4 separate regions of the Homo sapiens genome follow, and all the other regions are reported to be linked to region 1. The links are microRNA targets in miRTarBase. Many come from high-throughput screens and were not tested one by one. Region 1 holds a microRNA gene; each other region holds the end of a gene's coding sequence. Distances are from middle to middle.
The links. Region 1 holds the annotated microRNA hsa-miR-6829-3p (UGCCUCCUCCGUGGCCUCAG, at 1,465-1,484, shown strand). A microRNA usually pairs through its seed, bases 2 to 8, with sites in the 3' UTR of a target mRNA and lowers its output. Matches are read on the target gene's strand: a 7mer-m8 pairs with bases 2 to 8, a 7mer-A1 pairs with bases 2 to 7 and ends in A, and an 8mer does both.

Region 2: the mRNA of CENPM is a reported target of hsa-miR-6829-3p. The part of its 3' UTR that is shown has no 7-base or 8-base seed match.
Region 3: the mRNA of THY1 is a reported target of hsa-miR-6829-3p. Seed matches in the 3' UTR shown: 7mer-A1 at 1,492-1,498.
Region 4: the mRNA of UBXN7 is a reported target of hsa-miR-6829-3p. The part of its 3' UTR that is shown has no 7-base or 8-base seed match.

Annotation. Positions count from the first base shown.
Region 1 is chr3:195,880,813-195,883,812 of GRCh38, reverse strand. It overlaps MIR6829 (microRNA 6829), which reads left to right and starts at 1,418; the gene lies at 1,418-1,484. TNK2 (tyrosine kinase non receptor 2) reads left to right here. Exons shown (of 16, transcript NM_001382273.1): 5 at 504-656; 6 at 1,485-1,762. RefSeq lists an enhancer at 27-527.
Region 2 is chr22:41,936,272-41,939,271 of GRCh38, reverse strand. CENPM (centromere protein M) reads left to right here. Exons shown (of 6, transcript NM_024053.5): 6 at 76-535. The coding sequence ends at 216. Among named protein-coding and RNA genes, the nearest start is that of CENPM, 9.4 kb to the left of the region's middle. RefSeq lists enhancers at 2,481-2,540, 2,581-2,720, 2,761-3,000, 2,382-3,000.
Region 3 is chr11:119,416,974-119,419,973 of GRCh38, forward strand. It overlaps THY1 (Thy-1 cell surface antigen), which reads right to left. Exons shown (of 4, transcript NM_006288.5): 4 at 1-2,547. The coding sequence ends at 2,435. All of the region lies in intron 2 of USP2-AS1 (USP2 antisense RNA 1), which reads left to right. Among named protein-coding and RNA genes, the nearest start is that of THY1, 4.7 kb to the right of the region's middle. RefSeq lists an enhancer at 2,678-3,000.
Region 4 is chr3:196,354,056-196,357,055 of GRCh38, forward strand. UBXN7 (UBX domain protein 7) reads right to left here. Exons shown (of 11, transcript NM_015562.2): 11 at 1-2,791. The coding sequence ends at 2,630. Among named protein-coding and RNA genes, the nearest start is that of TM4SF19-DYNLT2B, 17 kb to the left of the region's middle.

The DNA.
Region 1 (3,000 bases):
GAGAAACCCCATCTCTACTAAAAATACAAAATTAGCCAGGCGTGGTGGCACCTGCCTGTAATCCCAGCTACTCAGGAGGCTGAGGCAGGAGAATCACTTGAACCCGGGAGGCAGAGGTTGCAGTGAGCTGAGATCACGTCACTGCATTCCAGCCTGGGCGACAAGAGCGAGACTGTCTCAAAAAAAAAAATTCCATTTTATAACATTTGAATATTCTCTCATCATACTGGTTATCTCTTACTTTTTGGTTGGTATTTAAGCCCGGCATTCCCCCAGGAAGGGGAGGTGTGGCCGACGATGGCTCCTGAGGGCCAGCCGTCTGCCCTTCTCCAGCCAGGCCTCACGCAGAGCACGTAAGCCCAGGCACTGGTGACATGCTTACCCACCCAGATGAGGAGCTCACAGGCAGGGATCGTTGAGCCGAGTTGGAGGGTGGAGCAGGTTGGCTCCGCGTGTCTGGGACCTGGCAAGTCCTGAGTCCTTGCAAATCCCGCTCTGGGCAGGTGAGTGTGGCTGTGAAGTGCCTGAAGCCCGATGTCCTGAGCCAGCCAGAAGCCATGGACGACTTCATCCGGGAGGTCAATGCCATGCACTCGCTCGACCACCGAAACCTCATCCGCCTCTACGGGGTGGTGCTCACGCCGCCCATGAAGATGGTGAGTACTGCGGGCGGGAGGGGGCGGGCAGGGAGAGGGCTCCGGTCCCATATGTGTGGTTCGGTTCCTCTCTCCATCCTAAGGTCAGAGGCGCCCTAGATCCTACTTTGGTCCCCCAACCTGATGGAGTAAAGGGGTCCACAGGGGCCCAGCCTGGTACGGGCTGTGTCTGCTGCGGTCCAGTCCGGGTCTGTCTCTGGATTTTGCTGGTGCTCAGTGTCAAGAGAGTTACTCCCATGGGAGGGGCTGGCCACTGAGTTTAATTTGGGGAATTTATGTTTTATTTATCTATTTATTTTGAGATGGAGTCTCACTTTGTCGCCCAGGCTGGAGTGCAATGGCATGATCTAGGCTCACTGCAACCTCGGCCTCCTGGGTTCACGCGATATTCCTGCCTCAGGCTTCCAAGTAGCTGGGATTACAGCCGTGCGCTACCATGCCTGGCTAATTTTTGTATTTTTAGTAGAGACGGGGTTTCACCATGTTGGCCAGGCTGGTCTCAAACTCCTGACCTCAAATGATCCACCCACCTCGGCCTCCCAAAGTGCTGGGATTACAGGCGTGAGCCACCACGTCCAGCTGAGTTTTGGAATTTCTAGCCACTGCCTCTTTGGGCTCCTTCTCTCTAGGCATCAGTTTCCCAAATTGCCTCGAGGGAGAGGCCTGAGAAACTGCAGGACTCCTAGAGGTCCCCAGACAGCAGGCCAGGAAGGTGCGTGCAGCCTGGCTCTGGAAAGCCTTCAGGAAGGGGACTGGGGGCCCAGCGTGGGCTGCTGAGAAGGGGCAGGGTCCTCCAGCTCATTCCTCCTGCCTCCTCCGTGGCCTCAGGTGACAGAGCTGGCACCTCTGGGATCGTTGTTGGACCGGCTACGTAAGCACCAGGGCCACTTCCTCCTGGGGACTCTGAGCCGCTACGCTGTGCAGGTGGCTGAGGGCATGGGCTACCTGGAGTCCAAGCGCTTTATTCACCGTGACCTGGCTGCCCGCAATCTGCTGTTGGCTACCCGCGACCTGGTCAAGATCGGGGACTTTGGGCTGATGCGAGCACTACCTCAGAATGACGACCATTACGTCATGCAGGAACATCGCAAGGTGCCCTTCGCCTGGTGAGGGGCAGGTGCTGCCAGCTCACAGAGTCCCTGCAGACCCAGGCCTCAAAGCTTCTGGGGCTTTCTGGACCCACCACAGCCCCTGGTTTTGCTTGGGCCTGCCCTTGTCTGTTCTAAGCCTGGGGTGCCCTCCTTTGCACCCATTCGCTCACCATCCATCTAGGAATTCTTGAGGGCCCACGTGCCAGGGTCTGGGTGCTGGAAATCACAGGGATACATGCTGTGGGACTCTCCAAGGGGCTTTGCTGGGTGGGGTGATACGGGGATAGATGCTGTGTCCTCTCCAAGGGGCATTGTTGGGGGTCGTGTTTCAGGGATAGATCCTGTGTCCTCTCCAAGGGGCATTGCTGGCGGGGGGGTGTTATAGGGATAAATGCTGTGTCCTCTCCAAAGGGCGTTGCTGGGGGGGGGGTGTTACAAGGATAGATGCTGTGTCCTCTTCAAGGGGCATCGCTGGGGGGGTGTTACAGGGATAGATGCTGTGTCCTCTTCAAGGGGCATTGCTGGGGGGGGTGTTACAGGGATAGATGCCGTGTCCTCTCCAAGGGGCGTTGCTGGGGGGGGTGTTAGAGGGACAGATCCTGTGTCCTCTCCAAGGGGCATCGCTGGGGGCGGGTGTTACAGGGATAGATGCTGTGTCCTCTCCAAGGGGCACTGCTGGGGGGGTGTTACAGGGATAGATGCTGTGTCCTCTCCAAGGGGCACTGCTGGGGGGGTGTTAGAGGGACAGATCCTGTGTCCTCTTCAAGGGGCATTGCTGGCGGGTGGTGTTAGAGGGATAGACACTGTGTCCTCTCCAAGGGGCATCGCTGGGGGCGGGTGTTACAGGGATAGACGCTGTGTCCTCTCCAAGGGGCATTGCTGGGGGGGTGTTACAGGGATAGATGCTGTGTCCTCTCCAAGGGGCACTGCTGGGGGGGTGTTACAGGGATAGATGCTGTGTCCTCTCCAAGGGGCACTGCTGGGGGGGTGTTAGAGGGACAGATCCTGTGTCCTCTTCAAGGGGCATTGCTGGCGGGTGGTGTTAGAGGGATAGACACTGTGTCCTCTCCAAGGGGCATCGCTGGGGGCGGGTGTTACAGGGATAGACGCTGTGTCCTCTCCAAGGGGCATTGCTGGGGGGGTGTTACAGGGATAGATGCTGTGTCCTCTCCAAGGGGCATTGCTGGGGGGCGGGTGTTACAGGGTTAGATGCTGTGTCCTCTCCAAGGGGCATTGCTGGGGGGGGTGTTACA
Region 2 (3,000 bases), not on the chromosome of region 1:
AGCCCCTGCAGCTGCTCTGGGTAAGGGAGCAGGGCCAGCATTCTATCTCACTGCTGTTCTCTGCTCTCCCCGCAGGTGGAAGGCTTTAGGGCCACCATGGCGCAGCGCCTGGTGCGCGTGCTGCAGATCTGTGCTGGCCACGTGCCCGGTGTCTCAGCTCTGAACCTGCTGTCCCTGCTGAGAAGCTCTGAGGGCCCCTCCCTGGAGGACCTGTGAGGGTGGCTGGCCCCTGGGCTGCCCCTTCTCATGGCTTCGTGCTGACTCCATAAACATTCTCTGTTGAGGATGTCCAGTCAGGGCTTGACAGGCCCAGGCTCAGCCCGCCGTGGCTGGGAAGGTTCCCTGCAGTGCCAGTGCTGCAGCAGGGAGAGCTGGGCAGAAGCAGCGAGGGGGCCCAGCTGGCGAGACTGTAGCCCCCTCCCACTCCCACACTCACTCTTGCAGAGCCTGTGTCTTTAAGCAGCTGGCGTGTTACATCTCCATTTAAGGTTTCCTTTGAACAAAAGGTCTGTGGCTAAAAAAAGTTTAAAAATCACTGGTCTCATTCACCACTTTGACTTTGTAGATGAGGAAACTGACTCAGAACAATTAAGAGTAGGGCAGGGTGGGCCAGGTGCAGAGGCTCACGCCTGTAATCCCAGCACTTTGGGAGGCCGAGGTGGGTGGATCACTTGAAGTCAGGAATTCGAGACCATCCTGGCCAACATGGTGTATCCCTGTCTCTACAAAAATACAAAAATTAGCCAGATGTGGTGGTGGGCGCCTGTAGTCCCAGCTACTCAGGAGGCTGAGGCAGGAGAATCACTTGAACCCGGGAGGCGGAGGTTGCAGTGAGCTGAGACTGTGCCACTGCACTCCAGCCTGGGCAACACAGTGAGACTCCACCTCAAAAAAAAAAAAAAAAAAAAGCGAGACCAGCCTGGCCAACATAGTGAAACCCTGTCTCTACTAAAAATACAAAAATTAGCCAGGCATGGTGATGCAGGCCTGTAGTCTCAACTACTCGGGAGGCTGAAGCAGGAGAATCACTTGAACCTGGGAGGCGGAGGTGGTGTTGAACCGAGATTACACCACTGCACTCCAGCCTGGGCAACAGAGCGAGACTCCGTCTCAAAAAAAAAAAAAAAAAATGCTGGGCGCGGTGGTTCCCACCTATAATTCCAGCACTTTGGGAGGCCGAGGCGGGCAGATCACAAGGTCAGGAGATCGAGACCATCCTGGCTAACAGTGAAACTCTGCCTCTACTAAAAATACAAACAAATTAGCCAGGCATGGTGGCGGGCATCTGTAGTCCTAGCTACTTGGGAGGCTGAGGCAGAAGACCGGCATGAACCTGGGAGGCGGAGCTTGCAGTAAGCTGAGATCGCGCCACTGCACTCCAGCCTGGGCGACAGAGCGAGACTCTGTCTCAAAGAAAAAAAAAGGAGTGGGGCGGGGTAAGGGGAGCTTGGACTCGTTATGCCAGTCAGACTCCACATCCTGGCCCTGCTATTATAGAACCTGGTTGTTGCCTCTTGGAGCTTGTTTTCTCAGATGTGAATGGAGATGAGGTTCTGCTCACCTTGTCACGTTGGGAGGATTGAATGAGACGATGGACATGCCTGGGACTGTGTGACCCCCCATGCCTGCGAGTAGGTTGCTGTGTTCATAACATGTGTTAATGCCTTGCACCTTGCTAGGTAGGCACTCAGTGAACAGTAACTATTTGAAATCACATGGAAAGCCGAGGCGGGCGGATTGCCTGAGCTCAGGAGTTTGTGGCTGGCCTGGCAACACGGTGAAACCCCGTCTCCACTAAAATACAGAAAATTAGCCGGGCATGGCAGTCTGTGCCTATAGTCCCAGCTACTTGGGAGGCTGAGGCAGGAAAATTGCTTGAACCCAGGAGGCGGAGGTTGCAGTGAGCTGAGATCGTACCACTGCACTTCAGCCCAGGCAGCGGAGCGAGACTCTATCTCCAAAAAAGAAATCACACAGCGGAGTTCAAAAACTGGTGCAAATTAGGAATTACACCACTGTCAGAAGTTTGCAAGAAGTGAGAAAAGCTGGCTGGAGGTCTCATTTTGGGGTTGATGGCGAGAGATTGTACAGTGCCAGTTGCTTTCCTTCTCCCTTGGGTCTAATTGGAGATTGTAGAGGCATCAGAAGTGGACTCTAGAAATCCCATAGAGAGCCAGGTCCTGACTCCCTTGGAACATGACAGTGCCCTCCCCACATTCACCCTGCATGTGCCAGGGCATGCCCACCAGCCTCAGGCCTCAGGATGGACCCCAGTTGAAGCCCTGGGCAGCACTGCACCAGCACCTCGGGGCCTGTCTGCTTTTTTCTTTTTTTTTGGTTGGTGGGGTGTGGAGTCTTGCTCTGTCGCCCAGGCTGGAGTGCAGTGGCGTGATCTCAACTCACTGCAGCCTCTGCTCCCTGGTTCAAGTGATTCTCCTGCCTCAGCCTCCCGAGCAGCTGAGATTACAGGTGCACGCCACCATGCCCAGCTAATTTTTGTATTTTTAGTAGACACAGGTTTCGCCATGTTGGCCAGGCTGGTCTCAAACTCCTGACCTCACGTGATCTGCCACCCTTGGCCTCCCAAAGTGCTGGGATTACAGGTGTGAGAGTCACCGCGGCCGGCCTAAGGCCTCTCTGCTTTGATGTCACCATCGCAGCTGGGCCCATGCCCTTCACTGAGGGGTGGGCCGCCTTCTAACTCCTTGTAGGTGTCGGGGATGCGGCCCTATCTGCCCCTTTCTGTAGGTTCCTTCTGGAACTTAGCTCAGGCCCCACCCCTAGTGCTCAGTAAGGGTTTGTAGACACCTGGCTGACTTCCTGGCAGTCCCTTGGGCTCCGCTGAGGACTTCAGCCACGTAGATTCCGGTCGAGGCCCCACATGTCACCCGACATTTGCAGGCACGTCATGCTTCACAGAGCTCTTCTCACACAGCAGACCTGTGAGGTAGATGATGTTTCCCCAATTCACAGTTCATGAAACAGACCGTTGTCATGGGA
Region 3 (3,000 bases), not on the chromosome of region 1:
GTGTGACAAAGACCCCATAGGAAGTGTCACACAGGTGCGAGGCTTCACACAGTGCCGCTCATTTCCTTCCAGAAATACCTCCATACTCTTTTACTATCCTGAGGGTGGGGCACCCCACATTTCTCTGGCATTTGATCTCCCTTCCCCCACAGCAGCTCTTCTCACCAAGATGCCTTTCCTTGGCACGGCGCTTGCAGCCCAAGCAGGGCTGAAGGAGAGGGGCCTGAGTCTCAGGGGTGTTCCTCCCCTTGGAGAGCTCTGGGCTGGCAGCATCTTGCTAAGGGGTTGTCAGCCTCCCAACCTGGGACAAGGACAGCTCCTCCTCCTCTGTGTATGGTAACTACAGGGGTGGAAGGCAAGGCAGAGAAGTTGACGGGAGGTAGCAAGAGTGGGAGCCGGTGGCATAATTTAGATCTGAGGCCTTTAAGAAAAATGCTCAGAAACAATCATCCTACCCAGTGCTAAATATCAGATGAGTCAGCCTCTGGGCAGCTGTCACCTTCCTCCCCCAAATTCCCTGGCAAAGCAGGGAGGCTGGCTTGGGGCTGCCTCTCTGACTCTGACAGCAGTTGGAACCCACAGCTACCCTGCGGTCCCCCTCTTGCCCCCAATCCCAGGATGCTCGCTTCCATTTTACTCTACTTTTAGGGAAGGAGCCAGGGATGGGCCTCAGTGTTCCCTCCCTACTCCCGAAGGGACAGTATTTGTCCCCAGTCCTTTCTCCTGCCGATGCTTTTGGATTTAGGAAGTGATGCCTTGAGGACATGGGCATCTCCCACCCTTCGTGCTCACCCTCGCAATAGTGGATGTGCCTGGAGGGTACATTTCTGAAGAACTACCAGAGCTGAGAAGAAAAAGCAGACTGCATAGCTTAGCGCAGATTCACGCAAAGCCACTTGTGCATTCCAGAGCCAGGGCCATGTGGTTCGGCCCACATGTTGGCAGTAAGCATGTTGTTCCAGCCAGGTGAGTCAGCAGACATGGGATGTTCGTTTATTTGGGCAAATGTGTCTCGTTAGGGTCATTCTGAAAAGAAGCCCAGTGTGCAGTCATTAGCCCCTGGGGTAGCGTTGCTACTAAGTGGTTGGGGAGAAGTCAGGGAAGAGGAAGAGGTGGCGTTCCCCAGCCTCACCCGTGGAGACCCCAGCGAAGCGGGGGCAGGCAGGCACTGCTGGAGGAGCGAAGGCCAGGTGGACACGAGGACAGATTCCAGAGGCTTGGTTTTATTGTGCAGTTTTCTTTGTCCTCAATGAGATGCCATAAGCTGTGGTGGCACTATACACAGTCACAGAACAGGAAGAACCACCGGGTGGGGGCTGGGGGTTGGGAAAAGCCATTTCCTGAGAAGTGTCCGGCTCCTGGGTCTCACTCCATGGCTTGCCTCAGGCCCCGCAGAAGTCCCTGAGAAGGCAGGCCTGCGGGGCAGGGGGCTGTCTGAGGGGCTCAGGCACCAGCCAGCAGGGGCTGGCACTGATGGGCGAGGGGAGGAAGTGCCTCCCTTAGAAACTTGGGCCAAACCCTGTGCAGCTCTGGGACTCCACCCCACCTGACTTGGAGGCTGTGGGTCAGAGCTCTGGAAGCTCTTGGGAGCTTGGGACAGCCTGAGAGGGTCTTGTCCTCCTTTGTAGCCCTCTCCACTGTGGGTGGAGGCAGGGAGGGGCAGCAGGGCCATGCTTTTAGCTTCCTTAGGCAGGGAGGGATGATGAACCCTCATCCTTTACCTCCTTCTCCAACCCTCCACTAGCGCTGCTTTCCTGGTCAAACCTGCATCTTCACTGGGTCATGCCCCAAGGCCTCTGAGGGACTTCCACAGTGGTAAGGAGGGCTGCCCTTTTTATTTTTTTTTGGTTGTGGCTGAGAATGCTGGAGATGCTCAGTTCTCTCCCTCACAAGGTAGGCCACAAATTCTTGGTGGTGCCCTCACATCTGGGGTCTTCAGGCACCAGCCATGCCTGCCGAGGAGTGCTGTCAGGACAGACCATGTCCGTGCTAGGCCCAGGCACAGCCCAACCACTCCTCATCCAAGTCTCTCCCAGGTTTCTGGTCCCGATGGGCAAGGATGACCCCTCCAGTGGCTGGTACCCCACCATCCCACTACCCCTCACATGCTCTCACTCTCCATCAGGTCCCCAATCCTGGCTTCCCTCTTCACGAACTCTCAAAGAAAAGGAAGGATAAAACCTAAATAAACCAGACAGAAGCAGCTCTGGAACAAAAAGTACAAAAAGACAGCCAGAGGTGTGCGGAGAGGGTGAGGTGGCCGCGTGGACGTGGGTAGATAATCGCATGCAGCACTGGAACTCCTGATGAGGGGTGGGGTCCCCACTTCTCCTCAAGGTTTGAGGGATTGGGGGGAGGGGGTCAGCTGACTCAGAGAAGTAGGATCTCTGCACTGGAACTTGAGGCTTCCTGTCTCCTCCATGGGCCCCACCAGTCACAGGGACATGAAATCCGTGGCCTGGAGGAGGGAGAGGGAGAGCAGGAGCAGCAGCAGCCACGAGGTGTTCTGAGCCAGCAGGCTGATGCCCTCACACTTGACCAGTTTGTCTGCAGAAAGAGAAGGGGGCCGGGGGCAGGGTAGGAAGGAAGACGGATCAGGACTCAGGCAGGCACAGGCCCAAAGCAAGGGTGTACTCCCTTTGGGAGGTGGGTACTGCAATGTCTTAGCTGGGACCAGGAACAGCCCGGTCTCACAGAACCAGCCATCTTTCCCATTTGCAGATTACTGATCTCTTGCACACATATCATCTTATGAAAACCTTACTAAACATCATGACAAGAAAACTGGCTGAGGGAGGTGGTGTCATCCCTGTTTTCCCGCTGGGAGAAGGAAGATTAGGGAGGCCAAAGGCCTTGCCCACAGTTCTGGTGGAACCACACTGCTCTGCCTGTCTGGCCCTGAGCTCTTCACCCCATTCACACCGAAGGCAATGGTTCCCCAGTTGACCAGGCAGCAGTTGGGAGAGGGTGAGAGCGTTATGGGGCTATTCTCCTCTCTAG
Region 4 (3,000 bases), 470 kb from region 1:
AAGGCAATACTCCTTATGGATTCTTCCCATGTACAATCCGTAACTCTTCCCATGGGCCTTTATATCAACCCTAAGATAATTACACTCCTGCCTCAAAATAAAATAAAATAAAACCCACCACATCTTGTATTGTAGACATCCCAGCTGCATGTTAAGCTGAGTGAAAGTACCATGCTGTCTTTTAAATCACTTTATATCTACTTAATCATCCCACAGTAACCCGAGTTGAAGAAGTTACTTTGGTTTCTCATAAATGAATATGCACGTGCTGAACATATCGGAAAGAACCACACCCTCTCACTGATGAACACGTTGGCAGTTCTCCCAACTGTTTTATCAAGAGAAGCTAGAAGGTAAAGAAAAGGAAACAGAGCCCTATAGGAAAAATGATTGACTTCACACGTTTGAGCGATTTGGGCTTCAGCTATGACTTTGCTGGAGTACAGATGGGTGCCATCAGAGCACAAAGCTGAGCAAACCTCTCTTCTTACCCTGTGCCCTCCCTGAATTTTTGGATTTCTGAGCTTGTCTACTACCAACAAATGTTTTACCCTCCAGTGCACCTTTGACAGTATACAGCTCTATTTTTCAAACGGCAAGTATGTTATCCAAGTTCAGAGATGCAACTGAGGAATTAACATGAAAACCATCTTTCACTCAATAAATCAGAAGCTGCTAGTTAAGTAAGCCTCAAGAACCTAAGAAAAAACACCAAAGTGTAAGTATTACTCAGTCACCAATCTAAAGACAGAACTTTGACTCAAGGTAGAAATGAAACCGTAATTATATAAATATATTTATAAATATTTATACAATTATATACTTATACATAAGCACTTACACAGACTTAGAAAAAAATTTAAGAACATTAATTCAAAAGGACTCACTGAAGAATAAACAGATTTTTCCATGATTTCCTTGAGGAGATATAAAACTCATTCTTTAGGGAGAGTTCCTCAAAATTCAACCATTAGAAACCATATCCTATAACTGTGTACTAGCAACACATGGCATCTTTTTTTCTTCTTTTCCCAAATCCCCTAATTGCCAAGAGAGCAATCTTAAAGTAGATGAAAACCTAAAGGTCTCTACGCAACATCTGAGGAACATACGCTCCTCAGATAAAAGAATCAATCTAAATCCTCAACTGACAAAAAGGTCCATTTAATATTTTTCATTTTACAAGTTAAAAGTTCTAGTTTTGCCACCAGAATCACGACTACCCCCCCTTCAGAGGACTCCATTTAAGCTCAAAATACGAAATGAGCATAGGGTGAAGTTGATGTGTAAATGGTATTCTACAGATTCAAGATGGCCTCTTCTAAAAACACTGAAGAAAGCTTTCACCAACTCTAATTTGATTTTGGGTTTTGTTGGCAGAAAAAGCCCAAGACATCTGAAAATTACTAGTAACCTCCGCCATCCTCCTTACTAAATGTTGTCTTCTGAATGGAGTTGAAAGGTCTTCCCCTTAGAGAGGCTTTCCGTTTTGATACCTTTTGAAAGAAAACAGCATGCGGACTCATGTTCAATTCAGTCACCAGAGCCTTTTAGAGACTATTCCAACCAGGGGCAAAAAATGAACCATTATTTCTAACCAAAAGAACATGGTTAGCAACTCTCAGCTGAATGGTTTTCTTTTTCCCCAGGGACATACCTAAGTATGCCTGAAACAACACAGGACAATCAATAACCATAGTGGTTACAATTCCAAGCCATTGTACTACATGATTATTGACCAGCTGCCTTCCTACAGATCACTGCAGACTCAGACAATGGAGGGCTCCAAAGGAACTAATATGCTGTGCTGGCAAAAATAGCAAGCACCTTCCTATCCCAGTCACCACGATAGGTTCACTTCATGTCCATTCTTGGACTAGCAGGATCAATACAGAGTAATAAGGAAAACTGTCTCAGGTTAGGACAATGAAAGTCACCCCATGCTATATGCTCCATATTTAACACTCATTCTGCCAATAACACATGTCATGGAAATAGTCCTTATAGCTGGGAACATGAAAATCCTTTGAAAAAGGTTTTTAAGTATGATGAGCAATCATTACAAGGGATGCTTTTTCCACGTAAACAAAAGCCTGGATATTTTGTTAAGCGACATTTCCACATGAAGAACACAACAAAACCAAACCCATGTTAGAGAATTTCTTCTCCCTGCTAAACACGGGGACTTACAAAAAAGGGAGGGTTGTTCTTACTCTGAATCTAGCCATTCCTTTGCCCGAAGAGTCTGGGGAGTAACGTTAACATTTGATCCCAAAAAAGTGCCGTGCAAGAGACCACTTACTGGAACACACAATTCCTGCTGCTAGTACTAGGAGAGGTCTTATCCTTACACTTCAGTTTGGTCACCAGATTAGGTAAGAAAGAAAAGTGTGGGGGGAGGGGGAGGCAGAAGGGTACGGAGTGGGGAGCGAGAAAACAGAAGAGGAGAAAGAAACAAAGGGGGAGAAAGAGACTGATTATAGGAGAGATCAAGAAATAAGAGAAGGAAGGTGACTTGCTTGCCCAACTTTGGCTCTGTGGTCCTATGAGCCAAAATGCATACTTAGTGACATGTATCTCACAGGAAAAGGGAAAAAAGGGGTAAGCTGAGAGAGGTCAAGCCATGGTGTTAATTTCTTTCCTGTACAAAGACAGTCTCTTGAGGACAAAGGCCTGCCTCTTGCAATGTAATATCATAGTCCAGATGAGATAATTTCCTTCGAGGAAAGTTGGTGAGAAGTTCAAAACGTTCATTTGGGTATCCTTTAGACTGCACGTGCTTCACCAAAGCCTATAAAAACAAGAGAAAGACAAAGCCATTAGACGGAAAAAGAGGAAAGAGCATATTAGTGAATTAAATAGAAAACATTCTCTTTTTAATCATATTAGATCAGCTATTAAATGTAAGTTCTTCTTTCATATAACCAAAGCTTGCCCTTGGGGAAGGGCCAATATAAACCTTTGGACGGGGAGATAAATCTGACCCCAATTACTTACAGC